Regions from separate parts of the Homo sapiens genome. Here regions 1 and 3 are each linked to region 2. The links come from fine-mapping of genetic effects on gene expression. A gene starts in region 2. Each other region holds a variant in brackets. All regions are shown on one strand. Distances are between the middles of the regions. Region 1 overlaps REV1 (REV1 DNA directed polymerase). Region 2 holds the start of LYG1 (lysozyme g1). Region 3 overlaps EIF5B (eukaryotic translation initiation factor 5B).

What was found. PIP is the estimated chance that this variant, and not a neighbour inherited with it, causes the effect.
Region 1: its variant is the best candidate, but not a certain one, in a credible set for the expression of LYG1 in tibial nerve (GTEx, PIP 0.84).
Region 3: its variant is the best candidate, but not a certain one, in a credible set for the expression of LYG1 in whole blood (TOPMed, PIP 0.54).

The regions. Positions count from the first base shown.
Region 1 is chr2:99,453,865-99,463,321 of GRCh38, reverse strand. It overlaps REV1 (REV1 DNA directed polymerase), which reads left to right. Exons shown (of 23, transcript NM_016316.4): 3 at 700-826. Among named protein-coding and RNA genes, the nearest start is that of REV1, 31 kb to the left of the region's middle. The variant G/A (reference allele first, on the strand shown) is at 5,297.
Region 2 is chr2:99,294,348-99,305,667 of GRCh38, reverse strand. It overlaps LYG1 (lysozyme g1), which reads left to right and starts at 4,471. Exons shown (of 7, transcript NM_174898.3): 1 at 4,471-4,618; 2 at 7,119-7,209; 3 at 9,966-10,040. The coding sequence starts at 9,998. All of the region lies in intron 1 of LOC107985923 (a long non-coding RNA gene), which reads right to left.
Region 3 is chr2:99,362,978-99,374,297 of GRCh38, reverse strand. It overlaps EIF5B (eukaryotic translation initiation factor 5B), which reads right to left. Exons shown (of 24, transcript NM_015904.4): 5 at 10,436-10,653; 6 at 9,877-10,027; 7 at 5,707-5,805; 8 at 4,817-4,906; 9 at 2,568-2,642. Among named protein-coding and RNA genes, the nearest start is that of EIF5B, 31 kb to the right of the region's middle. The variant G/A (reference allele first, on the strand shown) is at 6,752.

The DNA.
Region 1 (9,457 bases), 160 kb before region 2:
TCTCGAACTCCTGACCTCAGGTGATCTGCCCACCTCAGCCTCCCAAAATGCTGGGATCACAGGTGTGAGCCACTGTGCCCAGCCAGTATTATTATTATTGACTTAGCTTTTTTTAAAAGTAACTTTTATAATCATAAGAATGTAATAAAATTAAAACTTGAGTTGATAGAGGGAAAATTCTTCTTTGACCTATGTGTTTTATGTATTTATATTTATTTATTATAATTTTTTTTTGAGATGGAGTCTTGCTCTGTCACCCAGGCTGGAGTGCAGTGGCGCCATCTCACCTCACTGCAACCTCCACCTCCTGGGTTCAGGCAATTCTCCTGCCTCAGCCTCCCGAGTAGCTGGGATTACAGGCACTTGGCACTGCACCCGGCTAATTTTTGTATTTTTAGTAGAGACGGGGTTTCACCATGTTGGCCAAGCTGGTCTCAAACTCCTGATCTCAGGTGATCCGCCTGCCTCAGCTTCCCAAAGTGCTGGGATTACAGGTGTGAGCCACTGCGCCCGGCCCAACTTTCCTGTTTTATTTATTGCCTTGCCTTATGGTTTATGTTTATGAGGTCATCATTATGTTCTGGTCACTAGCACAGAATAAGGTCCATTTATTTATTTAGTTTTTAAAATTTTTTTTTTTCAAAAAAGGGGGGAGAAAATGTAACCTTTGTGATTGGTTTACCTTTTCTTTAATTCTAGGGTGGGTATATGGCTGCCAAGGTCCAGAAATTGGAGGAACAGTTTCGATCAGATGCTGCTATGCAGAAGGATGGGACTTCATCTACAATTTTTAGTGGAGTTGCCATCTATGTTAATGGATACACAGGTTGAGTACTTTTTACTTAACCCTATTTTGGCATGTATTTTTATTAGGATTGAGAATGATTTGTTTTAAAATTCTATTTTTACTCATTTATTATAGACAAATGATTGTAAGATGAGAAGAAATAAATCATCTGCTTAGATACTTCTTTTTCCTTTCCATGTTGCTTTTACCTGCCATTGTCTTTAACTTTTATCAAAGTACATAGTTTCAAAAAGTCACGTGAGGTTTAAAATGAAAAACGGGAAATTACCACACATGGGTAGTAGGACTTGTAAACTGTGAGCTTCACTGTAGGTCCATTTCATTGGTAAATCTCTAGATGTCATTGTCCATAGGTCCTTTAGGGTGGGGTGGTGTGTGGGTGTGTGTCAGTGTCAGATTTCCTAGAGAAGAATCTTTTACTCTCTTGTCTGTAGAAGAGTGTAAACTGCCAGCATTTGGGTCGCCAAGCAGGGAAGGAAAGGACCTGAATTCTCACAGTTTAGGAAGTAAAATTTCACTTAGTCTCTCTATTCATTTTCTCATTCCTACCTCCTCCCCACCAGCTGTGCCTATTGTCATTGAGTCCGGTATCTGGAAGGGGTAGTGTAGTCTTTATTCTTGGTGAAAGGAAAGAAATGTGCAAATGCTTCTTTGCCTGTTGCACAGTTTCAAGGATGAATTTATCCACACATCCACTTTTGAAGGTGCCTGTGTGTTTATTTCATGACTTTCTCTTTGTTTTACTGGTAACAAGCAGCTTCTTTCCAAGCTTCCATATGGCCAGCTTCAGTTTTATCTTTCGCTGAACTGTAAAGTCAGTTAGCACTTGCCTGTTAGTTACCAGGTTTTCTGCCTAAATTTTTCTCTATTTTCTTGGGGATTCTTCTTCTTATCATTTCATTGTATTTTTTGAAGTGAATGGCTGTAAATATTTGTGTCAGTCTGTTACATATTCCCCTGTCCCCTTCTCAGCTGGCTGATACCTGCTATCTTTCAGGTCTCCATGCCTCGCTTTCCCTTGATAGTTTGACTGTCTTCATACTGATTTAGGTGACTTCTTGTGCTCTTCTGGAGCTATGGCTCCCTGAATGAATCTGCATCTTAGAATTCTTCAGACCTTTCCATAGTTGTCTGTTTACTGGACAAGAGCTGGAGCTACATTTTCATCACTATATCCTTAGTGCCTCTACAGTGACTGGACACAATCATTCAGGACATATTTGTTGAATTGGAGTTAAGTATTAATTAACTGGTACATTTATCTGGTTTAGTAAGAGAAGAGTGTGTTGCTTGTAATTAAGTGTTTTATTAGGCATCATTGATGATGAATTTAGTCCAAGAATGTCATCTCAAAATAAATGCTGGTGCAGCATTGGGAAGTTCACATGCAGAAAGCTTGTAACTTTTCTGTGTAGGAAGGTATCCTGACAAATTCAAGCTCTGTGGACTTCCTGAGATGCTCTATGAAAAATTAAAACGTTAATGAAAACAGGCATTGCTTCTTACATTAGCCAGTCATGGAAGTCTCCAGTTCAAGAGAGCACCCTTATTCACATAGGAGGAAGAAAAAGAGATTCTTTGTGTGAGGGAAGAAAAATGAATATTGCAGTAATCACTTTTTGATTGAGAATCTGGAATTCTAAATCTGCTTTTATCACTAATTTTTGTGTGACTGTAAAACATTTTCTGTTTAGATCTGTTATTATCTCTATCCTTTTCTGCAGGATAGAGATGATAATATTTTTGCTCTTGTTATTAAGATTTCATTATAACTGTACAAATAAAGTTCCATTATGCTGAATTTCACCGAGATATCCAAACTGTGGTGCTGTAAAATAACTTTATTTTTAGAAAAATTAAGTTTTAGTGAATACTTTACCACTTTATAGATAAAACAGCATTAACAATTAGCAAGTAAAAATAACTCTTTAGATGTAATAAGACAAGTAGGAGGTGCTATTTTGTTTTTGATTTAAAAAAATAAGCTTTATTTCACAGTCTTGAGGAGTACTGGTCAGCTATTTTGTAAAATGCCTATATATATATTTTGGTATCATCTTTCTTCTCCATTAGCATGTAAGCACCAAAGGTGCAGACTTTGTCAGTTTTGCTCATTGCTATTGTGAAAGAAAGTTTTCAGGCCAGGCACGGTGGCTCACGCCTGCAATCCCAGCACTTTGGGAGGCCGAGGCGGGCAGATCACAAGGTCAAGAGATCGAGACCATCCTGGCCAACATGGTGAAACCCTGTCTCTACTAAAAATACAAAAATTAGCTGGGCGTGGTGACGTGCGCCTGTAGTCCCAGCTACTCGGGAGGCTGAGGCAGGAGAATCACTTGAACCCGGGAGGCGGAGGTTGAAGTGAGCCGAGATTGCGCCACTGCACTCCAGCCTGGCGATAGAGTGAAAAAAAGAAAATAGAAAGTTCTCTGAAAAGGAATTTGGAGGAAAGAGACTTCATTCCAGTGAACAGTTTGCAAACCTGGGAGATGCAGTTTTCACTGTAAAAGAAGCTGTGGTGTCCCTTCTTGTTGATTCTTAACCATGCTCCCCACAAACTGTAATAATCCAAGTGTTCTTGATTCCTTTAAAGCTCCCAGTTCAGCCATTTGAGCCTCTCATGATTTCGTAGTCCCTATACCTTCCAACCCAGTTAACATTGAACTTGAACTTGGAGGGAAGACCCTCTAATAGTTCACCTGTCAACCTATTCTTCCCTTCACCTGGCCCCAAAAATGTTTTTTGCTTGTTAAGATTGACTTCTTTGCCTTCTATCCTTTTTGTTTGTTTTGTTTGTTTCTTTGTTTTGAGATAGGGTCTCCCTCTGTCACCCAGGCTGTAGTGCAGTGGCACTATCACGGCTCACTGCAGCTTCAACATCCCAGGTTCAAGCCATCCTCTCTCCTCAGGCTCCCAAGTAGCTAGGACCTCAAGTGTGTACCACCATGTCCAGCTGATTTTTTAATTTTTTGTAGAGACAAGGTCTTGCTGTGTTTCCCAGGCTGATCTGAAACTCCTAGGCTCAAGCGATTCTTCTGCCTCAGCCTCCCAAAGTGTGGAGATTACATGTATGGGCCACCATGGCTGGCCTATCCATTTTTTAAATTAATTTTTTTTTAGATAATTGTAGATTCACATGCAGTTGTAAGACATAGCACATAGTGATACTGTGAACCCTTTACCCAGTTTCCCCAAATGGTAATATGTAATAAACTTGCAAACAGTGTCACAACTGGGAAATTGATACTGATACAGTTAATATACAGAACATTTCCACACTACAAAGATCTTTCTTTTTTTTTTTTTGAGACAGAGTCTCACTCTGTCACCCAGGCTGGAGTGCAGTGGCGCGATCTCGGCTCACTGCAAGCTCTGCCTCCCGGGTTCACACCATTCTCCTGCCTCAGCCTCCCGAGTAGCTGGGACTACAGGTGGCCACCACCACGCCTGGCTAATTTTTTGTATTTTTAGTAGAGACGGGGTTTCACCGTGTTAGCCAGTATGGTCTTGATCTCCTGACCTCGTGATCTGCCCACCTTGGCCTCCCAAAGTGCTGGGATTACAGGTGTGAGCCACCGCGCCCGGCCTCCACACTACAAAGATCTTTCATGTTACTCTTTCATAGTCACACCCACTTCTGTTCTCCGCCTTTCCTTAACTCCTGGCAACCACTAATCTGGTCTCCATTTTTATAATTTTGTCATTTCAAGAATGTTATATAAATAAAACATACAGCATATAACCTTTTGGGGCTGGCTTTTTTCACTGAGCATAAATTATCTGTCAGGTCATCAAAATTGTTGCCTTTTTATTGTTCAGTTATATTTCATAGTGTGGATGTACCAGTTTGTTAACCTTTCATCTGTTAGGGACATCACAGTTATTTCTTGGTAGGCTATGAACATTTGTGTATGAGTTTTTGTATGAGTATAAGAAGAGTACAGTTGTTGGTTCCCGTAATAGTTACATCTTTAGTTTTTGTAAGAAACTGCCAAACTGTTACCCAAAGTGGTTGTAGTATTTTATACTCCCACTAGCCTTGTATGAGGGATCAACTTTCTTTGCATCCTTGCCAGCATTCAGTGGTTTTCATTTTATCCATTTTAATAGATGGTGTTGTATCTCTTTGTGATTTTAATTTGCATTTGCCTCGTGGCTAATAATGTTGAACATTCTTTCATGTGTTTATTTCTTATCTTTACATCATCATTGGTGAAACATTTGTTCATATTTTTTTCCTCATTTTCTAATTGGATTTAGTATTTTTTACTGTTTAGTTTTGATATTTCATTATATATTCTAGAGACTACTGCTTTGTCATAAAAGTGGTTTGCAGGTATTTTCTCCCAGTCTGTAGTTTTTCATCCTCTTGAAATGGTCTTTTGCAGAACGTTTTTAATTTTGATGAGATCTGATATGTTGATCTTTCCTTTTATGGATTGTGCTTGCAAGTCTAAGAACTTGTCACTTTGGTGCTAGATCCCAAAT[G/A]TTTTCTTCTATATTTTTAGATTTTATAGTTTTATGTTTTACATTGAAGTTAATGTTTCATTTTGAGGTTTTACAATTTTTTTTTTTTATTTGTGGATTTCCAGTTGTTGCAACACAGTCAGTTAGGCATATTTTGGTGGATCTGTTTCTGGGTTCTCTGTTCTCTTCCATTGATGTTTGTGTCTGTTCCTTCACCAGTACCACACTATATCAAATACTGTACCTATGTGGTAAGCCTTGATATCAGGTAGAGTGATTGCTTTCACTTGTTTCTTCTTTGTCAAGATAATTCTGGCTATTCTAGGACCTACGCCTCTCTCTCTCTTTTTTTTTTTTTTCTTGAGACAGGGTCTCACTTTGTCACCCAGGCTGGAGTACAGTGGTATGATCTCAGCTTACCGCACCCTCTGCCTCCCTGGCTCAAGCGATTCTTGTACCTCAGCTACCCGAGTAGCTGGGATTACAGGCACATGCCATGATGCCCAGCTCATTTTTTGTGTGTTTTTAGTAGAGATGGGGTTTCGCCATGTTGGCCAGGCTGGTCTCGAACTCCTGACCTCAGGTGATTTGCCTGCCTCGGCCTCCCAGAGTGCTGGGATTACAGGTGTGAGCCAGTGCACCTGACCTATATAAATGTTAAAATAAGTCATTTATCCACAAAATACCTTGCTGGGATTTTGATAGGAATTACATTAAACCTGTAGATCAGTTCGGGGAGAATTGACATCTTTACTATGTTGAGTTTTCTAGTTTACAGACCTTATATCCCATTTTATTTTTCTTTAGTTGATTGAACAGATATATTTTGGATGCTGCTTGTGGGTTAGGAACTATGTTTGAAAAGAGATAGCAGTTGATGGAGAATGTGGATTTTGTGATGAAAAAGTAATCTCTAAGCCTTAGACATCAACAGAGGAGGGTGAGTGCCAACACAGAAGAGGAAACAATTGCCTTTGGGAGTGGGAGTGAATACTTCATAAAGGAATCGAAATGTTTAGCTTGGTCTTAGATAAATAGGCATTTTCCAAATGAAAATGGAGAAAGACATTCTAGTCCTAATTCTGACCTACATTTTCAACCTCATGTTCTTAAATTTTGCTCAACAAGATTACCCTGATATTCTAGATTTGTCTTTTTACTTTTACAGTTCTGTGTTTCTGTTTGTTCTTTTGCCTCTGAGGAAAAACTCCTTCCCTCCTCACTTCTGTGAACTGGAAGTATATTCATTCATTAAGATCCAGATATAGTTAGGTTTTGCCTCCTTCCCTGTCTAAGCCAGTCCATAGTAGTAGTATTTTATATAGAGAGATATATAATTCATAGCATTATTGCTAGAAACATTTATTTTGACACCTGGATTTTGTCTTGTGTTGTTAGGTCTTAATTCTATATTAAGTTCTTTGGCGTTAGGAAGCCTGTTTTATGTATAGTAATCCCTTGCCAAACATGGATTAGAGATAACACCTCAGGGCCTTAAATTTGCAGTTCCTTCTGCTTCCTCAGGTCTTCATCATTCAGATCTCTGCTCAAATGTTACCTTTTTACGGAGACCTTCCCTGACTTCACCTATCTAAAACAGGTGTACTTTGCCCTCCAGTCGCTCTCTAACCCCTTATCCACCTTCCTCTTCATTTATTTGCACCTAAAATGGTATTACTTGCATGACTTATTTTTGTCTCCTCAGTGGAATACAAGTGCTATCACGGGGCACAGACTTGAGTCTTGTTCATTGCCATATCTCCAGTGCCTAGAACCTTGCCTGGCACATTGTAGATACTCAATAAGTATTAGTTGAATGAATAAATAAATAACAGGTTTTGTATTTGTACATCAGAATGTTAAAATATTTTCACTCAGATGCTAAATCAACTCAGTCTTAAGGAATGGGCCACATTTGAGGCCTGCATTGTAATCTGGGAGGTAGGCTCTGGGCATGTTTATTTTTGTGAAAGCTGCCCAGGGGGAGTGAGTGCTTCAGACTTAGTGGACAGTGGTTGCACTTTAGTGGTGTGAGATTGGGACAGTTCATATGGAAAGAGGTGTTCAGGTTATTTTCTACTTCCTTTAGTACATGGGTAAAAGACCAGGTCTTTTGATTTTGGCACTGCTGAAGTTTGTGAAAAAGCAGGTGGAGGGGGGCCCGGACAAGTACTTTAGCACAATTCACAAAATGAAACAAGGGGGAATATGCAAGTGTAACAGACTTATATTTCAAATAAGGATTTGTTTGAAAGCTGACAGCTTACATTGATGTTTTCTAAACATACAAATGTGGTGTTTTAGGAGAGGATTCTCTTTAGTGTTGACAAGTCTAATTTTTTGGAAATAAATGCCTCCCAGATATTATTTTGTATGGATATATAATATCTCTCCTTCCATTTCCTGTGAGACTCTCATCTTGTAGATAAGAGATGGAGGAATTGAACCTCTGACATAGAAGACTTACCATATTAATTTATGCCACCTCCTGTAATTTTGCTAGTACCTGATGTGAAATTTGCACCTAGTTGGTACTCAAAAATTTGTTCCCTAAGCATTTGAAACTTTTCTTCAGTTTTTGTTTGGTTGAGTGTATCCGTGGCTTTTAGTTGATTGTGGTGACTCTGTTGGTAAGTCTGAGGTAGTTAGGGGTGAGAAGAGTCAAGAGAGTAGTATTGCTGCTGCAGAAACTGAGGGACAGGAGTCCAAAGACAGAAGGGTATGCACAGTAAGTTTTCTCTGTTGCCTCATCAATAAGTTATCTTTTCTAATTCATAAGATTGTGAAACTCAAATGAAATAATGAAGATGTTGCCATGGTAGGAGCAAAGGAGGTATAAGCAGCCATTCACCTCACTTCTTTCTGTGATTTATATAGCACAGTCAACAATTAATTAAGTTCTTTGGATATGCAGGAGGAAATGGTGCATATAGTAAATGTTTTCTCAATAGAGATCTAGCTAGGAAAGCTTTTGTGCAAGATTTAAAAATTTTGTTTATAGAATTTGTTTTAACCAGATGAGCAAAACTTTCTATAAGCTGGGCCTACAGACGTGAAAGTGGTCTTCATATGGCTGTTTTGATGTTATATGGTGGCATTTGCTCTTGTGACATTTTACTTGTAGGGCTTTAGGTCTAAACGTGGGCTAAATTGTGGTCCTTGTATATGGCTTTTACTTTTACTGTGCTTTCAATTGTCTGTCACTATGTCTGGTTTTAGTTAAACCTCAAATTTAGTTGCATATAGAATGTTCTGCAAAATAAAACTAATAGTAGGAGTATTGTGGAATTTTATTTATTTGTTTATTTAAGATAAGCTCTGTTGCCCAGGCTAGAGTGCAGTAGACTGATCATAGCTCACTGCAGCCCCAAACTCCTGAGCTCAACGGATCTTCCTGCCTCAGCCTCCTGAGTAGCTGGGACTAGAGGTGTGTGCCACCACACGTAATTTTTGGGTTTTTTTTTTTTTTTTTTTTTTTTTTTTTTTTTTTTTTTTTGAGCTGGAGTTTCACTCTTGTTGCCCAGGCTGGAGTGCAATGGCGGGATCTTGGCTCACTGCAACCTCTGCCACCTGGGTTCCAGTGGTTCTCCTGCCTCAGCCTCCCAAGTAGCTGGAGTTACAGGCGCATGCCACCACATCCAGATAATTTTGTATTTTTAGTAGTGACGGGGTTTCTCCATGTTGGTCAGACTTGGTCTTGAACTCCTGACCTCAGAGGATCCACCCGCTGTGGCCTACCAAAGTGCTGGGATTACAGGTGTGACCCACCGTGCCCAGCCTTTTCTGTTTGTTTTTGTTTTTGTTTTTTTGTGGATTTTTTTTAAAAGACGGATCTTGCTGTGTTGCCTAGGTTGGTCTCAAACTCATGGCCTCAAATGATCCTCCTGCCTCAGCCTCCCAAATCTTTCAAATTACAAGCATGAACCAGGAGGTTGAGGTTACAGTGAGCTATGATAGAGCCATTGCAGTCTAGCCTGGGTGACAGAGCCAGACCCTGTCTCTAAATAAAAAATAAAAAGGCAAAGAACAATGAGGAGAAAAGCACTCACTCTGACATTTCAAAACAGTGACATTGATTGTAAAAATTTGGAGGATAGAATTTCCCTGAATCTAGTTTTGTTTTATTTTGATTTTTTTTTTTTTTTTTTTTTTTTGAGACAGAGCCTTACTCTGTCACCCAGG
Region 2 (11,320 bases):
GCTGTAATTTTGCATGCAACCAATCTCTCCCCATTCCTCCCCAGCCTCTAGTAGCCACTATTCTGCTCTTTACTTCTATGAGATCGCCTTTTTTTTTTCTTGAGATGGAGTCTTGCTCTGTTTCCCAGTGCAGTGGCGGGATCTTGGCTTACTGCAACCTCCACCTTCCAGGTTCAAGCAATTCTCCTGCCTCAGCCTCCTGAGTAGCTGGGATTACAGGTGCCCACCACCATGTCCGGCTAATTTTTGTACTTTTAGTAAAGACGGGGTTTTACCATGTTGGCCAGGCTGGTCTCGAACTCCCGACTCAGGTAATCTGCCTGCCTCGGCCTCCCAAAGTGCTGGGATTACAGGCGTGAGCCACCACACCTGGCCATTACACATGATCAACTTTTTTAGATTTCACAAATGGGTGATTTTGTCTTTCTGTGCCTTATTTCACTTAATGTCCTTTAGGTTGATCGTGTTGCTGCAAATGACAGGATTTCATGCTTTTTAATGACAAAATATTATTCCATTATGTGTATATACTGCATTTTCTTTATCCACTCATGTGTTGATGGACACTTAGGATGATTCTGTGTCTTGGCTATTACAAATAATGCTGCAGTCAACATGGGAGTGCATATTTCCCTTTGACATATCCATTTTCTTTGGATACATACCCAGCAGTGAGATTTCTGGGTCATATGCCACTTCTACTTTTAATTTTTTGAGGCATCTCCATACTGTTTTCCATAATGGCTAGATTCGTGTATATACCCACCTAGAGTGTATAAGGGCTCCATTTCTCCATATCTACACCACAATTTGTTATTTTTTCTCTTTAAAAACATTTTTAGATTGAGGTGTACACGTGTAGGTTTGTTACATGGGAGTTAAAACATAATCCTTTCTTTTTCTTTTTCATAAATTGAGACAGGATGTTGCTATGTTGCCCAGGCTGGTCTTGAAGTGCCTTGACCTCCTAAAGTGTTGGAACCACAGACGTGAGCCACTCCACCCAGCCTAAAACTTCATCTTCTTTGGTAAATGTGCTTTCATCTTCAGCATTCCAGACTTAGTACCATCCTCCCAGGCACTTATGTCCTCTTCTTTGCTCTCATCCTTGGCGTCTTGTCCCAAACTGAGTCCTGTCAATTCCACCTCTAAAATAGATCTGTAATATCTTTCCTTTTTCTCTTAGCCACTTTCATGCTGCTGATAAAGACATACCTGAGACTGAGCAATTTACAAAAGCAAGAGGTTTAACAGATTCACAGTTCCACTTGTCTGGGGAGGCCTCACAATCATGGCGGAAGGTGAAAGGCATGTCTCACATGGCAGCAGACAAGAGAAGAGTGAGAGCCAAGTGAAAGGGGTTTCCTCTTATAAAATCATCAGATCTCATGAGACTTATACACTACCATGAGAACAGTATGGGGGAAACTGCCTCCATGATTCAATTGTCTCCCACTGGGTCCCTCCCACAACACAAGGCAATTATGCAAGCTACAATTTGAGATGAGATTTTGGTGGGGACAGAGCCAAATCATATCATTCCACTTCTGACCCCTCCCAAATCTCATGTCCTCACATTTCAAAACCAATCTTGCCTTCCCAACAATCCCCTGAAGTCTCAGGTGCCCCCACCACGCCTGGCTAATTTTTTTGTATTTTTAGTGGAGACGGGGTTTCACTGTGTTAGCCAGGATGTTCTCTATCTCTTGAGCTCGTGATCCGCCTGCCTGGGCCTCCCAAAGTGCTGGGATTACAGGCGTGAGCCACCGTGCCCGGCCGGGGTTTCTTCTTATAAAATCATCAGATCTCTTGAGACTTATTCACTACCAGGAGAACAGTATGGGGGAAACTGCCTCCATGATTCAATTGTCTCCCACTGTGTCCCTCCCACAATGCAAGGGAATTATGGAAGCTACAATTTGAGATGAGATTTCAGTGGAGACACAGCCAAGCCATAGCCCCGTCACTCTAGTCCAACCATCATCTCTCTTCTGGTCTTCTGTGAAGTCTCCCGAGTCACTCTGGCTCACCTCCAATGCAATCAGCAGCCAGGGGACACTTTTTAAAACATAAATCTGACCGTCATGTGCCTGCGGAGTGTCCCGGAGGCTGGATGGAGAACGACCTCCTCAGCTTCTAGGATTCTTAGGGTGGGGACCCAGGTGCAGCAGGTGAGGAGGTGGAAGTCATCATAGAGAGGCAGGGTTTGTGAGAAGCCATTTCGTCTCTGTGGAGCCTTTGCCAGGCAACATGCTGGCTGCTGCCCAGGAGAACCTCCCAGGATGCTAACATGGCCCTCTGGGCTGATGACAGGGTGCTTTTGTAGGTGGAGCTGGGCATCCCCAGATTTCCCCACACTGTAATACCTTTTAATTGTTGGTATGTGCTAGAGCTTGGTGGAAAAAATAAAATGGATGAGTTCCATTTTGGGGGTCAGGATAGAGTTTTTAATGGGTGCATTAGTTCTCTTTTTACCCCAACTCTGCCAACAACCGAGAGGAACCCAGTGTTCTCACACTCCCCTCCCAGAGTTAAAGTTCAGGAACTCCCTGGGTGTCCAAATCTGGACCCTTGCTCACAGTGCCCTGCCTTGTGGTCTCACCATCTCAGTCACAAGTAGAGAAAAACAAAATCTTCTTTTTTTTTTTTTTCAGATGGAGGCTTGCTCTGTGGCCCAGGCTGGAGTACACTGGCATGATCTTGGCTTACTGCAACCTCTCCCTCTTGGTTCAACTGATTCTCCTGCCTCAGCCTCCCGAGTAGCTGGGATTACTGGTGTGTGCCACCATGCCTGGATAATTTTTGTATTTTTAGTAGAGATGGGGTTTCGCCATGTTGGCCAGGCTGGTCCGAACTCCTGACCTCAAGTGATCCACCTGCCTCGGCCTCCCAAAGCGCTGGGATTACAGACGTGAGGCTCTGTGCCCGGCTGAGAATAACAAAATCTTAACCCTCAATGTCTGCACTGGGGATGCAGAGTGAGTGACTTCCAAAAAGTCATAAATACGCTTTAAATCATTCATTTACTCATTCCGTAAACATGTACTGAATACCCCTTATGTGCCATAAGGAATACAGGAGAAAAAAGCCTTTGTTTTTGTTCTCAAGACAACAACAAACCAAAGTGCTGTAGGTGCTATGGTAGAAATATCCACATGTTGCTTGAAACACAAGGAACACACGTCTAACCTGGGGCCCAGCATTGGAAGCCCAGTCCAAATCTTGCTGGGTGAGGTTGTAGGAATTCTTCAGTCATTGACTGATTCAACAAAGATTTACTGAACACTTACAGTGTGCCAGGCTGTTATCTGGGCACTGAAGACTCAGTCTTATAAATGAAGTAGCCAGATTCACAGCTCTCACGGAGCTTGTGTTTGAGTTGTGGTATGGGGAGGGAGCTAAGGCAGGGGATGCAGAAGAAACAGACTGTATACCAGTCAGCCGATAAGCAAGCCATTGATTCCACGTGTTTTACTGAGTGTCTAATATGTATCATGCAGAGTGTTGCATGCTGGTATTATAAAGACGAATGAGACACAGCCCCTGTCCCTGAGGGTTTAGATAAAAAGGAAAGATCCTGTAGGAATGCCTAGTGCAAAGAATGGCGCTGTGTTTGGGGAAAATCAAGCTGTTCAGCTGAGCTGGGGCACAGGGTGTGGTGAGGGAGGGGGCTCCCTCTTTCAGTCATGAAATGCACCCTTTCCACAACTTGGGAAAGAATCCTTCCTGGAAACTTCATATGAACCCTCTCAAAGTACTTATTGATGTAGACATTTGGAACACGCTGTAGGTCCTGGGTGTCTGTAAAATAGCATCATCCAGCCGATCATCTCTCCCCACATTGCTGAACTGAGGACATGTGAACTGGTATCTCTCGGTGGTTCAGAACAGGGGCCAGCAACCTACGGCCCTAGGGCCACCACCTGTGTAGTAAAGAAAGTTTTTTTTTTGGAACACAGTCTTGGCCATTCATTTAAATATTATCTATGATCACTCTCATGCTACAATGTCAGAGGCATTATAAAGACCACGTAGCCCAAAAACCTGTCTGGGTCTGTAAGAAAAAGCTGCCAACCCCTGGTCTAGGCGCTCTGCTTACCTGAAATACAAACCAATAATGAGTTTCTGACACACCAAGTTCAATTCCCTCCCTCCCTTCCTTCCTTCCTTCTTCCTTTTCTTTCTTCCTTCCCTTCCTCCCTTCCTCTTCCCTTCCTCCCTTCCCCTTCTCACTCTCTCTCTCCTTCTCACTCTCTCTCTCTTTCTCTCTCTCTTCCTTCCTTGTTTTCTTACCTAACCCACATTCCCAGAAAATGATGTGAATAAAGACAAGTGTTGGACCTCAATGTGTCAAAGTTAAACTACAACTAGGATCTGCCTTCTGAGGTATGGCAAGAAACAAATTGGTTAATGTTTGCAAAATGCCAGGACATTCTCGAATAAAAGGCCCTATATAAGTTCGGAGTATTTATAATAATTATGATTATTATTATAATTTATGAGATGTCATAAATCTCTCCAAAATAGGATGAGATGAACACTTTTAACAAGAGAACAGGACTCTATATAAATCGCTGTGGGCTCACCACCTCTAAGGAGGAGCACTGACTGAAGACAGGTGAGTGTGAAGCAGAGGCATGGATCTTACACTCGGGCTTATTGAGGATGAAAATCCAGTGTATGGTGATCAGTTGGCAATGATTGTGTCTCTGCTGCATAAGAAATATTGGACTCAGGCGAAACTTAAGGACCTTGCAAAGAAAACCCAAGTTTGAAAAGATTTGTAGATGATAGAATAATTTTTCCTGTTCATTACAACACTCATCAAAATTTAGATATCTTTTAATGCAAGTATGTCATTACTTTTGGATTTGTGAGCATGTGCAAATCGAATAATGGGAGAAAAGAAATGTGTGTGCACTTAACTGTAGCTGTAATAGGGCCAAATGCGACGTCATATTTGTTAACTGAAAGCCAAAAGACTAAGGTGTTTGTATTTTGCCAGACGGTAAATCCCTTGCCTGCCCTCATGGGCAGTCTTGCCAATGCTACATTAACCCATAGACCATGAGTATTGGTTCTATAACAATCTTATTTTCTCTGCAAGCTGTGTAAGAACTAAGGCCAACATGTCTAACAGCCTCGGCTAACAGACTAAAAAGACAGATACGCCTCTAGAGTCCATAGACGGAACAGAGGGGCCAAGTCTCCCTGATTTGCTCTGTGCAGAAGGAAACGTTCACGGGGAAATCTCCAGCATAGGATGATCCTTCCTGGAGTTCTGAACTCTCAAAAACGCAAATGGGAAAAGCAGGCACAGAGGACGCACTGAGAGAAGGAACTCCCTTCCAGCTCACAGTGTCTCTATGCAGGGAAGATTTGCCTGCCCAGAGGGAAGAAAATGATCAAACTTTCAGAGGTCTTCTAGGCTGGTAATTATTGATTACAATCCAAATTCAGTGAATAGGTATTTTCACAGGCCATGTGAAGGTGCAGCTCTACGCAGCGTAACAGCTTAAAATGAGCCTTCCTGTTGCTGCCCTATATTTTTGCTCTAAAAAGTTGTATTTTTCTCAAAAAAAAAAAGATCTTAGTGGCAGAATAATTTTATATTATTTTATATTTGTGACTACATTGCTATTACTATTTTAATTTTAGGCCTGTTGGTGCATAGCAATCTGTGAGGCAATGGGCTGGAGTGTTGCTGTACGTGCATGTGTGTGTGTGTACGTGTGTGTGTGTACGTGTGTGTGTATATATGTAGGGAGGGAGAAGATTAGAATAGCAAGAAGAGGATGAGTACGACATGATGCTACTGGTAAGGCCTTTAAGAAATTTAAAAACTTAAACATTTTAAAAATGGAATAAAATAAATATTTAAAAATTTTAAAAAAACAAAAATTAAAAAAATTAAAAAGTTAAAATAATAAAAAATTAAAAATAATTTTAAAACAGGCCAGGTGTTGGTGGTTCCCAGCACTTTGGGAGGCTGAGGCAGGCAGATTGCTTGAGCCCTGGAGTTTGAGACCAGCCTGGCCAACATGGCGAAACCCCGTCTTTACTAAAAATACAAAAATTAGCTGGGCGTGGTGGCACAGGGCTGTAATCCCAGCTACTCAGGAGGCTGAGGCAGGAGAATCACCTGAGCTCAGGCAGGTCGAGGGTGCAGTGAGCCGAGATCACAGCACTTCACTCCAGCCTAGGTGACAGTCAGACTATGTTTTGAAAAAAAAAAAATTAAAACAATTTTAAAAATTAAAGAGTAATCTAATGAGACATTCTTACAGGCTTATAATGGTGAGATGATTCCACAATTTTGGGCCACTGCACTCCCACCTGGGAGACAGAGTGAGACCTTGTCTCGATTAAAAAAAAAAAAAAAAGAAAAAAAGAAAAAGAAAAAGAAAAAACAAAAAGAAAAGAAAAAGAAAAAAACCCAGGGGCTGGGCGCGGTGGCTCATGCCTATGATCCCAGCATTTTGGGAGGCTGAGGTGGGTGGATCACCTGAGGTCAGGAGTTCTCAACCAGCCTGGCCAACATGGTGAAACCCCATCTCTACTAAAAATACAAAAATTAGCTGGGCGTGGAGTGCCTGTAGTCTCAGCTACTCAGGAGGCTGAGGCAAGATAATCACTTGAATTCAAGAGGCGGAGGTTGCATTGAGCTGAGATCGCACCACTGCACTCCAGCCTGGGCGACAGAGTGAGACTTTGTCTCAAACAAAACAAAGCAAAACCCAACAAAACAAAAAGTAATTAAAATTAAAATTAAAAAATTAAAAAAAGAAAGGCCTGTTGGCACACAATGAGTAGGTAGACACAGAGACATGTTAGCAATAAACAAGGGTGACAACACAGCTTAGAGCAGGAGACCATGCCTAATGTGGATGCATACAGGAGTTCTCAGTTCTCTCAGGATTAGATGGGGACACCACAATGGGGCAGGGGCACCTTCATTGGGCACGTTGAGGTGTTAATACGTCACATTTCTGGGCTGGATGGAGGGCCCCAATGACCTGCAATGATACTGTTCAAGGTAAAGATTGAGAGCATTCATGGAAAAGTTTCTAAGGTGAGAAAACCATAAGACCAAAGATACCTGTTTCTACCTTTTCTAGAAAAATTGATGAACTGAAGAAGACATGGTCCATTATGCCTTACAAACTTACACAGTGCTTTGGGAATTCCAAAGTACTCAGTGGAGAGAGGGTGAGTAGAGGAAGATGTCCCCATCAAAGCCACCAGGAACATGAGGTAGCTCCTGAGGGATGCTCTGGTTGTCAGTTTCCAGTGTGCCTGGCAGGCCTGTTGCCCCAGCTTGTTGACACCCCCTTGCTGTTTGTTACTATTTTGCTCTCTGGGAAGGGAGAAGAGGGATGCTACCATAAACATTGTGCTTGACATCATGACCACTGTGCTGCCTTGGTCTGACATCTTCATAATGGTTTTAAGCAGGGAGCCACAGGGGAATTAACAAATGAGTCATAGGGAACTGACAGACACTCTTTGAGCACACCCGAGTGATGTCTCAACAATCTCTTCTAAACACAGAGTACTTTTCGTCACTTGTAAAGTTGGGCCATAGAGTTTGGGTTGCTTCAATATGCTGTATTTATGGACAAAATGACATTGTTCATCCATTTAAGAATTCCAAGCTAGGTGTGGTGGCTTGAGCCTGTAACCCTACCTACTCAGGAAGCTGAGGTGGAAGGATCACTTGAAGCCTGGAGTTCAAGACCAGCCTGGGCAACATAGTGAGACCCATTTCTACATAAAAACTAAAAAATTATCTGGGCATGGTGGCATACACCTCTAGCCCCAGCTACTTGGGAGGCTAAGGTGGGAGTATCACTTGAGCCCAGGAGGTCAAGGCTGCAGTGAGCCGTGATCGTGCCATTGCACTCCAGCCTGGGTGACAGAGTAAAACTCTGGCTCTAAGAAAAAAAAGAAAAATTCCATTGTCACTTCTTGCTCTTCCCTGATGAAATTGAAAAACTTTACCTTGATGACCTGGTCCCAGGAGCAACTAGAAAGTAATTCTGTGTTCCCATTAAGTGGCACATGTATTTACATAGACTCTTTCATTAAAGTGACTTCTCAACACAGATATTTAGTTCCAAGCATGGAAAATACGGTAGCTCTCCTGTTACAATAAAAGCTGAGTCCTTCCACTTGGGTTTCCAAGAGGAAGTATTTTTTCTTTCCTGGAAAAGCAGCAAAAAGAGTGAAATACCCTGGGTGGAGCATTTGAATGTGAGCAGTGCTTTTTCCTGAAGGGTCCTTCCATAAAGCCAGTGATGCACTTTCATGAGACCATGAGCTTTTCCTATACCCAAGCAGCTCTTTGTCCATTCTTTTCTCCTGGGATTGGTTGTCCTCTCTTGTTTACTGCTGGAGGCTCAGGATGCTGAATAAATGACTCCTGTTGGGTGATTAAATCTGAGCGTTCCTGCAGACCCAGCTAAGATTCCAGGTCCCTGAATCTTTTTGGTGTTGGGACTGACCATGACATTTTGTGCTCAACTAAGCAAAATCGGACAGACCATCTCAATGTTGTAGAGAGAATAACAAAAAGCATGACTGCAACTGAAGGGCATATGCCCCCTCAGTTTAAGAAGACAGAAATCGAATAACTTCCTTTTTCTTTTTTGAGACAGGCTCTTGCTCTGTTTCCCAGGATGGAGTGCAGTGGTGTGATCATAGCTCACTGCACCCTTGACCCTCTGGGCTCAAGCAGTCCTCCTGCCTCAGCCTCCCAAGTAGCTAGGACTACAGGTGTATGCCACCACACCTGGCTTCAAATGACTTCCTTAAAGCCTCTCCATCTTGAGATGTGATCTCTTCCTGGGTGTTTGAAAGAAACAACCCATAAGGTTAACCTCAAAACAAAAGAGATGAGAGAAGCATTATGAAAGTACCAAGTGCCTTGTTTATATGCACATTCCTACATGTAATGACAGTAATAATTCAAAATGCTAGGCTGCCAGGCTCTGCTGACTGGGGCAATGATGACATACACCCTGGAGTGGCAGGGCTTGGTGGGAGGCGCTTTGGAGGCAAAGGTCCAGAAACTCTACCATTCCCTGAGGTTAACAGCAAACTATCCTTGGTGGTATTTGTGTATTGGTTTGGTAGCCAGTAGGAGAACCAGGGCTGTTTGTACTCATGGAAGGTGATTAGGGGAATGGTTGGGATAAGAGAGAGAGAGAGCACATGAGCGGGTGCTCCATGTTGGCCACGTGTTCATTCTCCAGTCTTGTGAGCACCTCATGAGTTCAATCCTGGGACCCCTGCCCATGAGCCAGCTTCTTGGGGATTTGCTGGTGGAGGTAGCTCCATTCTCCCTGGGCTCTGGTCCAGGTTTGTTGCCGCATTGGGGTTTTACAGAGGGGGAATGGGGAACATGGCTCAAGGTGATAAAGGGGGTCTGTGATTCCAGGCTGGGGTTAGAGCAGTGGGAAACGTCTTCCAACCAGTGTACATTCCAGGGCACTGAGGAAAGCGTGGTCTTTCCTCAAACCTGAAGAAGAAGGGACCTAAATTCCAAGAAGTCACCAATACAAAATTCTCCTTTTGATAATGGAGATAATAAAAAGGCTCTTGGGATGAGGTATGGGCATCAGAAATTTGCTTTTCAGGGTCTGGAGCCAGGTCAGTATGTTTCTTGGTGGTTGAGATTCAAAGTGTCTTGCCTTCTTGAAATAAAGTAGTTAGTAACTTGACTGTATGTTGAGTTCCTGTGGGCTGAGTAAGAGTCTTCTCATTTTTAGATTAATTGAAAGGATGAATGGAGCACTTACTTGTCCTACTTTTGCTTTTTTTTCACTATGATTCAAATAATTCATTTTCTTAGGTCAGATATGGGGAAATTTGTTCTTTTCACCCCTGCTTCTGTGGAAATATTACATGTGGTTATGATGATGACTGATATTTTTGTATTCTCAAGCTAATTTTTGTTTTAAAAGTGTTTCAGGAGCCGTAGAGCCAGATCGTCATCATGTCTGCATTGTGGCTGCTGCTGGGCCTCCTTGCCCTGATGGGTGAGTGTGGCTGATTTTTACAAATGACTTTGGAGATGGGAAGGATAAGCACAGGAACACAATGGCACTTCTAATACTTGAAAATGCAACAAAAAAGATTATTTTTTCCCTAAACTGTCCAACAAATCCTGGAGTTAGGAACAGCCACCAACAATCAGCCTCTCCCCAAATGTCCCACAAAAGATTGGGGTTCTCTGGAATGCAAGGTGGGCTTAAAACAGCACTGCTTGAAGCCAGACTTTAAATATACACCATCAATAGCTGCTCATTGTCCACTATAAAAAATGCCAAATTGAATTTATTCCTAAAGCATTTATTTCCATAGAAGAATTGAGGTGGTTGCCAGAATAAGACTAATGAATAAGACTAATTCAAATAGAAAACCAGAATCAAGGCAACCGAGTACACATGACTAAGCTAATCACTGAGGCTGATTTAGTTGCTGTGATTGAACTTCAGCTTTGCAGCTGGAGGAAAAAGGGAAAGTACTTGTTTTTGTTGGTTTGCTTTTGTTTTTGTTTTTTTTGAGATGGAATTTTGCTCTTTCACCCAGGCTGGAGTGCAGTGGTGCAATCTCAGCTCACTGGAATATCTGCCTTCCGGTTTCAAGCGATTCTCCTGCCTCAGCCTCCCAAGTAGCTGGGATTACAGGCGCCTGTCACTACACCCGGCTAATTTTTGTATTTTTAGTAGAGACAGGGTTTCACCATGTTGGCCAGATTGGTCTCAAACTCTTGACCTCGTGATCTGGCCTCCCAAAGTGCTGGGATTACAGGGTGATCCACTGCGCCCAGCCTACTTGTTTTTTAATAAATAAAAGGAGGAAGCAAAGTTCCTCAGGAGAAGCTAAATTTTCCTGACTCTAAATTTAATAGATTTCTTAGATGAGGTCTCATAGTCATTCATTTAGTTATTGACCCATTCATTCAACAAATATTTAAAAATGCCTACAAGGTGCTAAGCATTGGGAATACAAAGAATTTTGAGGATCATAGAGTGTGGCTAGGGAGAGGTCCACAAGGCAGGAACCAAGGAGTGATAAAACCAACTGCAGTACTAAGGGTATTTGTCACCAGTCATAAAGATAAAAGTGCACTGATTAAAAAATAAAAAAGAACCTGTCAGCTGGTTTAATTTTTAGTATATTCATAAAAGATCTAGTCTTTTCATTTCCACATTTTTCTTAGGTTACTTATCACAAGTTTGTAAAGTAGAAGTATTTACTCCAAAAGACGAGTATTTATCAACCCCATAAAGTTCTAAGAAAGTAGAACCTGAAA
Region 3 (11,320 bases), 69 kb before region 2:
TTTTTTTTTAGGTAAGAGTCTCGCTCTGTCGCCCAGGCTGGAATGCAGTGGCGCAATCTCAGCTCACTGCAACCTCTGCTTCCCAGGGTGAAGCGATTCTCATGCCTCAGTCACCTGAGTAGCTAGGATTACAGGCGCACGCCACCACGCCCAGCTAAATTTTCTAGTTTTAGTAGAGGTGGGGTTTTGCCACATTGGCCAGGCTAATCTCAATCTCCTGATCTCAAGTGATCCGCCCACCTCGGCCTCCCAGAGTGCTGGGATTGCAGGTGTGAGCCGCCATGCCTGGCCGAGAGCAATGATATCTAAATAGAGTATTGGGTAAATGTCATTCAAGTACTCTAAAGTCCCTGCATTGTTAGAGGATAACATCAGACATTGTTAGTTCAAAGGTACTTGCTAAAAATTTTCTTAATCACTAAAAAGTTGTTTGAAAGGTATACAACTGCTAAGCTCATGAAAGGAAAAAAAAATAAAAATTTAAAAACCTAGTAACCAAAAGATGATTAGAAAGGAGAGAAAAAGAACCAGGCAGAACAAAAAACGACTTAGTAAGATGAAATGTTTAAAATCAATATACTTCATTAATTACACCAAATGTTACATTTAATGAACAGGCTAAGTACTCTAGGTAAAATATAAAGATTGACAAACTGGATTGAAAAAATCTCAACTAGATCCTAGCTGTGATTTGTAAATGGTGTCCCCTCTAAAATTCATGTTTAAAACATAATCCCCATTTTGCTGGTAGGAGGTAGGAGGGTGGTGGGGAAGGTTTTGGGGAGTGATTAAGTCACTCTCATAAATGGATTCACGCCCGCAGAAAAGTGCCTTCAAAGAGAGTTTGCTCCTCTTGCCCTTCCCTCCCTTCCATCATGTGAAGACACAGCCATCCTTCCCTCTGGAGGATGCAGCACCAAGGTGCCATCTTGGAAGCAGACAGCAGCCTTTACCAGGCACCAATGCTGGTGCCTTGATCTTGGACTTCCCAGCCTCCAGAACTGTGAGAAACACATTTCTGTTCTTTAGTACTACTGAGTCTGTGGTATTTTGTTACAGCAGAACAAATGGACTAAGATAATGCTATTTACGGATACAAAAAGAGTCATAAAGATAGAAAAAGATCATGTAAATCAAAGCTCGTGTACCTATATGAGTTTTAGGTAGACTTTTATATCAAAAGGCATTGTTAGAAATATATATATCAATGATAAAAGAGTCAATTCATTAGAAAGATACAAGATTGTGTTTACCTAATGACACAGCATAAAAATACATAAAGCAAAAATTAACAGAACTCAGGAGAAATAGACAATCTACAATCATGATGGGAGATTTTAAGGCATTGGTCCCAGTAACAGAGAGAAAAAACAGATCAGAAAAAAAACAAAAGCAAAAACAAAAAAACCCTCAGAACGCTATGAAAGACTTGAACAAAATGATTAGCAAACTTGACCTAAATATAGAAAGCAAGGCATCCAACTACTGCAGAATATAAATTCTTTCCAAACATGAAACACTTACAATAACTGACCATGCTAGGTTGTATAGCAATAATCAACATATTTCAAAGGATAGAATCATGTATCTTCTCTGATCACAATGAAGTAACAAAAGACAATTAGAAAATGCCCATTTTTGTAAATTAAGAAATACACTAGGCGGGCTGTGGTGGCTCACACCTATAATCCCAGGACTTTGGGAGGCCAAGGCGGGCGGATCACCTGAGGTCGGGAGTTCGAGACCAGCCTGACCAACATGGAGAAACCCCATCTCTACTAAAAATACAAAATTAGCTGGGCGTGGTGGCGCATGCCTGTAATCCCAGCTACTCTGGAGGCTGAGGCAAGAGAATGGCTTGAACCCGGGAGGTGGAGGTTGTTGTGAGCCGAGATTGCGCCACTGCACTCCAGCCTGGGCAACAAGTGTGAAACTCCATCTCAAAAAAAAGAAATACACTAAATAAATCTTGTAAAACTTAATACATCAAAATGAAAATGAGAAAATATCAACATATCAGACTTACAGAATTTGACTAAAGCCATGCTTAAAGAAAAAGGTATAGCTTTAAAAACAAAGATGGGGGGAGGCTGAAAAAAATCAAAGAGCCAGATATCATTATCAGTAAGTTAGTAAAATTAACAGGAAATTAAATCTCGAAGTAGAGATTTCAGTAATAAAGAAGGGGAAACAATGACAAAAACGTTTACTTTCTATTCATACTTATCAGGAACTATAGTATTTATCTCATTACCTTTTAAGTTAACAGTGCTTTTTGTAGGTCAGCTTTAGTAACAACCCTATTTTGTAACATCATCACTCTGAAAAAATGCATTCTAAACCTTAGGCAGCTATCTTACAAATAACATTCTGAGGAACCACTCATTCACAAAATGAAGATCCACTTGAGGACTTAGAAACCATGGCAAAGGAGAGAACAAGAGACTTATCCCTATCCCCAGAAATGTTCATATGGCTTTCATAATCAAAAGACTATTCATTTAAATATATATCATTCATTTCTAATAACCACTGGATGTATCAGTGTGTGCTTATGAGGTATTCACCTTTTTCTGTCTCCTCATCACTGGCCATAGCTTCCCAATCATCCAATCCAGCATCCTCAGTATCTTCTTCTTCTTCTGTAAGTAAAAATTTGCATTTAAGACACAAAAATTATTTAGAAATATGAAGGTCTTTTAGAAAAAAGTAAAAAATTATGCTCTGACATAAAAAAAGAATGTTTTAATTATGTAAAAAATATGTATGCAGCTATTATCTTTAGAACTATCTTTTTTTTTTTTTTTTTGAGACGGAGTCTTTGCTCTGTCGCCCAGGCTGGAGTGCGGTGGCGTGATCTCGGCTCACTGCAAGCTCCGCCTTCCGGGTTCACGCCATTCTCCTGCCTCAGCCTCCCAAGTAGCTGGGACTACAGATGCCCGCCACCGTGGCCAGCTAATTTTTTGTATTTTTAGTAGAGACGGGGTTTCACCGTGTTAGCCAGGATTGTCTCGATCTGCTGACCTTGTGATCCGCCCGCCTCGGCCTCCCAAAGTGCTGGGATTACAGGCTTGAGCCACCGCGCCCAGCCAGAACTATCTTTTTAATATAGCTAGCATGTTATAATTTACTATTACTTAAATGCTTCCATTTCCTACTACTGCCAACATATTAAACTTAACCAATTTTACATTCAAGCTAATTGTTTCATTAATTTAATTAATTTAAATGTTTCTTTAGATCTTGAAAAAGCTACATGAATATACTCAGTTCTTGAAAACAAATGAAATTTCATATATATCTTCTTTTTGATCATCCAACTCATACTTTATGCAAGGAATTTATTATTTTGCTTTTAACCTTTACAGGTATTTAAATATACTTAAATTCTGAAGTTGAAGGTACAAAACTACCACCATCACTCTGGGTCAATGCTGTGCTCATAACCCCAAAACAGCCAGAAAGCTAAAATTCTGAATATTATTTAGACATTAAAGACCTAATACTCTTCTTAACAAGAATGCTTTTCTTTACTGAAATCTAACCAGGCACAACTATTCTTAAATGAAAGTAAGATGACGGGTAGGACATGTGGTACCTGCTTCCCTGAAATAATCATTATTTACTAACAAGCCTGCATAAGTTATCTTGAGGAGGAAATGAGACTCAGGTACCCAAAACATCCATCTAAATTAGCAATTCTTTCTGGTGCTAAAAATACGATCTAAAATAGTGGACTGCTATTAAGCATATCAATCTAAATTTCTCTAATCTCGTCATATCAGTGCTAGGCTGAGGTCTACCCAGGTGAGATGATCCTATTCGCTCAGAAGAGAAAAGAGAAAAAGAAGGAAAGGAACTATCAATAATATAATTCACCAATGTAAATCAGGCTTAGTATTCTGTAAAGGCTTTTCCCATTCCTGATCCTATCTTTAATCGCTGGGGATTCTCTTGAATACCAAACATACATTTAGGCAGCCCCAGCTCTCCCATCAATATCTAGTCGTAAGAGTTAGAACAATGTTTTTTTTTTAAAACCAGAGATTTTTCCCCAACTCCTCAACATATACACAGATACCCCACAATGAGTAAGTTGAATTCTCTGATTATTGTAAATAGAAGCCGACCTTTAGGAAGGTCTAAAAATGCCAATTTTTATGGTTCTTAAAAAGTTCTAGTTAAAAATCCTTCCAATTTGCTTCTGAAGCATTAAATGAAGACCTTCAGATCTTTTTTTGAGATTTCTGACTCATAAATAAAAGCATCAGAGAAAATCCAAAACCTACTATCCTTTCTTCCTTTTTTTTTGAGATGGACTGTTGCTCTGTTGCCCAGGCTGGAGTGCAATGGTGCAACCTAGGCTCACTGAAATCTCCCTGCAACCTCTGCCTCCCAGGTTCAAGCAATTCTCCTGCCTCAGCCTCCCAAGTAGCTGGGATTACAGGCACCCGCCACCACCCCCGGCTAATTTTTTGTATTTTTAGTAGAGATGGAGTTTCACCGTGTTAGCCAGGATGGTCTTGATCTTCTGATCTCGTGATCCATCTGCCTCACCCTCCCAAAGTGTATCCTTTCTACAAAACATTTTCTAACACTGCTGAAAAGAACACAACTGATTCAAGTCTCACTTGGATACTTATTCAAAGTAGAAATGAAAAGAAATAGAAAAGAAAGAACTATGAAGAAAGAGGGCCATCCAGCCAGATACTTATTTGGTTCTCCCCAATTATTTATAATAACTAAGACAACTTATGACACACCAACACTATTTAATAAGAATTCACTAATTAAATAATCAGATAACACTACCCGCCTGGTTCAACAGGAGGTGGTGTCTCTTCCTTTTCTGGTACTCCTTGTTCCATAACTTCTACAGCAGCACATAATTCCATTGATTCAGACACTGAAAAAGGGGCAGAAACCAAGATAATATTTTTTTTGGTGTATAATTTCTGTTAAGATACTCCATTAAGTACTGAATAAAAAACAGTAGTGTAAACCTATTTATTTTTTATTTTTTTGAAATGGAGTCTCGCTCTGTCACCCAGGCTGGAGTGCAGTGGTACAATCTCAGCTCACTGCAACCTCCACCTCCCGGGTTCAAGCAATTCTCCCTGCCTCAGCCTGCCAAGTAGCTGGGATTACAGGCACCTGCCACTATGACAGGCTAATTTTCTTATTTTCAGTAGAGGCAGGGTTTCATCATGTTGGCCAGGCTGGTCTTGGACTCCTGACCTCAGGTGATCCGCCCGCCTCAGCCTCCCAGCGTGCTGGGATTACAGGCGTGAGCCACTGTACCCAGCCTGTGCAAACCTATTTCTTCAAGTTTAGAAAATGTTTAAATATAGTCATATGTTTTACAGGAAACTACTCTTTCTGCTCAATAAATAAAATACAAAAATCACAGAAGGCTAAGAAGGAAACCAAGAAAAGATAAGAATGGTAGTTTTACTTCTCAGAGTTAACAACAGTTACAATATTCATAGGGTAGAACCCAGATTTTTCAAAGTAAAATACTTTTTCCATTAGCTTGTCATTTGAATCAAGTGAGAATAATGGCATTAATAAGAAATAAGTTTAGAAAATAAGTTTCAATATGCATTTCGGATTTTTTCCTTTCTTCTTTACAGACACTGTTTTGAAGATTGTGGGGGAAAGGCAAACAACATATTTCCTAAATTAGAGGCTATTTTGTATACAAACCTTCTTTACTTTCTAGCTGCTGTGGTATTTTTTTCCTCTTTTTATCTTCATAAATTGGCCTCTTCTTTGGCAAAGAGTCTTTTGATGGCACTTCAACACCTGAGGGATAAAAATGAAAAACTTCAGGCTTATACTACTTGCATGTCACCTGAGAAGTACTATTTAAAGGATAGCATTTCATTCACCACAGAGACACATACCCTAAAATATGAAAGGATATTCATGGAAAAACTTGTATCTTTTACATATAAGGTATTTTAAAATTTACATACAGTAAAAATCCTCGTTTCACATACAGTGAGAGTTTTGATACGTGTATCACCATCACAATGAAGATGCAGAAAAGCTCCATCACTCCATCATCCTGTGCTGCTCCATGTAATCAAACCCTCCTTACCTTCTTAGCCTCTGGTAACCACTGATCTGTTCTCCAACCAAAAGATTTGCTTTTTCTAAAATGTCACATAAATGGAATCTTACGGTCTGGCCTCTATCATCATAATGGATTTGAGAGTCACTCACTCTGCTGCACATGTCAATACTTCGTTTACTTTCATTGTTGGGCAGCATTCCATTGTATGGATATATCAGTTTGCTTATCCATTCAACAGCTGAAGGACATTTGAGTTGTTTCTGGTTTTTTGCAATTATGAATAAAGCAGGTATGAACATTTTCAGACAGGTTTCTGTGTGAACATTTCTCTTGGGCAAATATTTTGTAGTGTGAATGATGAAACATAAGGTAAATATGACCTTAATTTTTATAAAGACACTGCCAGTTGTTTTCCAAAGTGGCTATACTATCTTGCATTCCCACCACTAATGCAGAAGAGTTTTGGCCAGGCGCAATGGCTCACGCCTGTAATCCCAGCACTTTGGGAAGCCGAGGTGGGTGGATCACCTGAGGTCAGGAGTCCAGGACCATCCTGGCCAACATGGTGAAACCCCATCTCTACTAAAAATACAAAAAATTGTATTATATAAAATATATATATATTGTGGTGGTGGGTGCCTATAATCCCAGCTACTCAGGAGGCTGAGGCAG[G/A]AGAATCACTTGAACCTGGGAGGCAGAGGTTGCAGTGGGCTGAGATTGCGCCACTGCAATCCAGTCTGGACAATAGCGAAACTCTGTCTCAAAAAAAGAGAGAAAAAAAAAAAAAGAGTTTCAACTGCTCTGAATGTGGTAAAGGTTTCTCTTTTTTTAGAACATTCTTTTCAGATGCGTATAGCTTTCTGGTGAAAGTGTCTGTTGATACCTTTTGCCCATTTTTAAATGAACTTATTGGTTTTCTTATAGTTGAATTTTGAGAGGTCTTTATATATTTTGGATGTTAATTCTTTCTCAGATATCTGACTTGGAGGTACTGTCTTGGAATTCTCTTGACAGTGTCTTTTGCAGAGAAAAGTTCTGAACTGGTCTTTCTCAAAATGTATCTTTTTTCCTTTTATGGTTTAGAGTCCTATCTAAGCACTCTGCCTAACACAAGATATCCTCCTATGTTTTCCTCTGAAAGTATTATTGTATATTTTACATTTACATATGATACCCATTTGGGTCAATTTTTATACAGTGGGAATTAAAACTGGTTTTGGGTTTTTCTGCATACAGATGTCCAATTGTTCTAGTACCACTTGCTACAAATACTGTATTTTATCCACTGAATTACCTTTCACCTATATACTAACCATGTATAGACTATTTATCTGTTTGTCTATCTTTCTGGCAATATCACACTGTATTAATTCCTATAGCTTTATACTAAGTCTTGAAATCAGGTATTCTAAGTTTGTTCTCCTTTTTCAAACATATTTTGGCCATTCTAACTCTCTGGTCTCTTCATATCCATTTTAGAACTAGTTGACAGATAGCTACAAAATACCATGCTGTGATTTTGACTGGGATTGAACTGAATCTACAGATTACTGGATTACTGACTCAGTCTCTCACTATGGGCAGAAGCCTTAGAATAAAGACAACAGAAATTGTATACCATGGGATTTTGAATGAAGTCACTAATAAAGGAAAATGACTAAAAATGTTATCTCTAACGTAGGAATGTATATGGATGTGTGTTGTGCATGTACTGAAGAATGGCTAGAATGGTAAAACCATAGCTATGACTGGTAAGACGAATACATTAAACAAACCAAAGAAAGAGGATAAAGCCAGCTGAGAATGCAGAGATCATCACTTTAAGTTTTCCTTGCCTAGCAGCCTACACCTACTAAGATGAAAAGCATGGGCCTGAGGGGAAACTGTAGGCTGGATTACCTGAAGGGTGGTCCCAATAACACCCTAGACTTAATCAACTGACTACTGCTCTAGTCTCAGACTCTCAAATAAGCTGCTGTACTTGGAATCAACACCAAGACTTGTATGTGTTTAGACATTCCATTCACTTTGCAAACTGAGACATAACAATCAAGTTCTTGAAGAAGCTCTTTGCCTGAAATGAGTTTATTACAAATTATTGATAAAGTACTCATATATGTGTGTGTGTGTATATGCTTAGTAGTCACAGGCTAAAGGATGACTGAAAAGTTAACCTGCTGCACATTTCAGAGCAATTATATGAAGACACCTGCAGATGCCTACACTCTCTGAGAGTACATTTTTAGCTCAATGAATAAGTTTTACAATATTCTAGGTAATAAATGTGGTAAGCAGCTGTCTTTCAAACATACGATGAAACAACACTGTAGGATCTTTTAATGAGATGACTCACATGAGTGGGCTGTGGGTGGGGGGGAACCTTGAATGTCAAGCTAAGGAATTTGGATTCTTATTAGTAGACAATAGGGAACTAATAAGATGGTAAACACTGGACAACACTATGAAGAGTAAGAGACCAGCGTCAGGGATGCCACTTGAGAGAGCATCTCTTACAAGCCTAATGCTAAAGACTGATGCTAAAAGTCCACCATTCTACACTGTAATTTCCATAACTACAAGTCTAACTGCTCCTTAAAACAGCATTTTTGAGACTGGCAAATTACTCCCTGCTTGGTCCCATCTGAATTTCTTCATGGGTGCTTTTAGCCTCTCCAATAGTCACCAATGAAATCTGATGTATGAATGCTAACTATATTCAAGTTTGTACCTAATTTCATTTAAAATTTTACAAAAGCTATATTCTCCATTAAGAATAAAACTTTCTAAAATCTAAGTACTGGGTTTCTTCACATCTAATGTTCCTAGCTGAACATATGCGTAAGAAAAAGTTGCACAGACCAGCTTAAATTTCAGCTCTGTGGCCTTGGGTAAGCTGTTTACACTCTGAACCACCATTTCTTCATCTATATGATGGAAGTAAAAATAGCTATAAGATTTTTTTATGAGGGAAAAATAGACAATGTCAAAGACATTGTAGCATCAGTTACACACTAAGCACACAATAAATGGTAGCTATTACTGTAATTATAGCATAAACACCAAAATGACTGTAATATAAAAATCTAGGGAATATAGGAGCAGGAAATTTAAGAGAGGTCCCAATATATTCTTCTCATTGGAGCAAAGACACTATTTTAAATCACCTTACCTTTCAAAAAAGTAATAAATTATATGCCCAGTTGTGATCTCTAAACACTATTACCCTCTAAAAGGAACAAAAGCTCTTTGGATAAACAACCGATTCCAGGTCTCAGCCCATGCAAGATGAACCTGGGATATCTTGTTGCATCAGAAAGTAAGGAAAGGGTTAAAAAAAAATGGTCATGAATACTTTTTCACCGTGGTCATGTGGGCAAACTAATATGCTGTCTGGGAATCACTGTATTTCTTTTTTATTTTTTGGGATTCACTTTAAAACATGCTAGGATAAAAAGTAGATGGAGAGGTACAAAACAAGAATGTCAAATGGTCCTAATTGTTGAAGCTGGCTGATAGGTACACAGGGACTCATTCTATTATTATCACTATTCTTGTTTGTGGGAGGATAACTTATTTAGACATACTATCATTTACATATAAATTTTTATCCTCATGTAGATGTCATCTTCCTAAACAATGAAATGACATCACCTATTCCTTACGTTTTACTGAACTTTTTCACAGATTTTTCATAGGAACTGTCCTGATGCAAATTCCATTCTCCTTCTGAACATTAAGGGATATAACTGCATGTGCAGAGCTCTCTGACCATTCAGTTAATGAAGAGTACCACTCACCCTGAGCTTGTAGCAGTTTAAGAGTAGCTTCGGCTCTGGCTCTGGCTTCTCTCTGGGATTTAGTTAAAAGTTTCCCTTCTTTTTTCAAGCGTTCTTTTCTTTCTTTTTCTTTTTGCTTTTTCCTTTCTCTTTTTTCTTGTTCCAATCGTTCCTATAAAAGAGTACATGTCAGACAAAACCTGTATTCATTTAATGAACTATAAAATTCAAATGTAAACAATCCAAACTTCAAATAAATCTCTTGAGACACATGCAAAGTATTATGTTAGGAGATTCCAAATCAAAGTATTTTAAATGTTATACATGATTATTAATTAATATCACATCAGATTATTGGCAATGATACATAAGCAACTTATGTATCGAGCAATCTGTTCTTGAGAAAATAAAGATAAGATGTGCTGTACCTCTTCATCTTATTATTTGTATCGGAACAATAATATAACTGAATTACCATGCAACTATGAAATTTTCAGAATTAGAAGAGTAAAGATATTTTACAGAGAATAGATTTTAAGTTAAACACAATATCAATGTTACCAACTTCATGAAAACATACCTCTTCTTTACGCTTGGCTTCTAATTCTTCAAGCCGTTTTATACGTTCTTCCTCTTCTCTCTTCTGTCTTTCTTCTTCCTCTTTAAGCTTAGCCAGAGCTTCTTGCATAGCTTTAACAGTGGCTTTGCTAGGTCCTTTTTTCTTCTCTTTCTCTTTTTCTTCCTTTTCTCCTTTCTTTTTCTTCTTATCTTTCTTCTTTTTGTCTCCTTCATTGTCATCTACCAAAAAGAATAAAGGCAAAGCATTGAAATGAAAAAACAATTCCCTGTGGTGATGACGAGCAAAACCCAACCACAATTCAAGGACCATAATGGGCCAAGGCCGATGCCAGCAGCAGGCTAAGTTCTACAGGCATCAAGGCATCCTGAGCACTTTGGTAACTAGAATAGCTCAGAATAACTCACAGATGGCCTCCTGAGAAGTCTGCAATACTGATGTTGGTCTCAGATGTCCTGAGGAATACAGTAAGACAGAAGGATACTGTCAGCAGCAAAAGGGCAATCCTGTACCTAATGTATCTCTAAATCCATGGTACCTGAGTGGCTGGTGTCCAACAGATGCTTATATGAAGTTCTAACAATCAGAATGAACTAACACCCACGTAAGTTCTGTAGCTAATTTCACTTCTACAAGATGGAGTTAATGAGAATGATGTCCACTTTAGGGGGTATTAGTAGGATAAAATACAAAAATATAGGTAGTTATACTCCAAGAACTCTAAAGAATTAAAAGCTATGAAGGTACTTTCATGGTGTTCCTCCTCGAATATATCCAGATAATAAATATGCTAGCATTTAAAAAAGTTGCTGGGCACGGTGGCTCACACCTGTAATCCCAACACTTTGGGAGGCTGAGGTGCATGGATCACCTGAGGTCAGGAGTTCG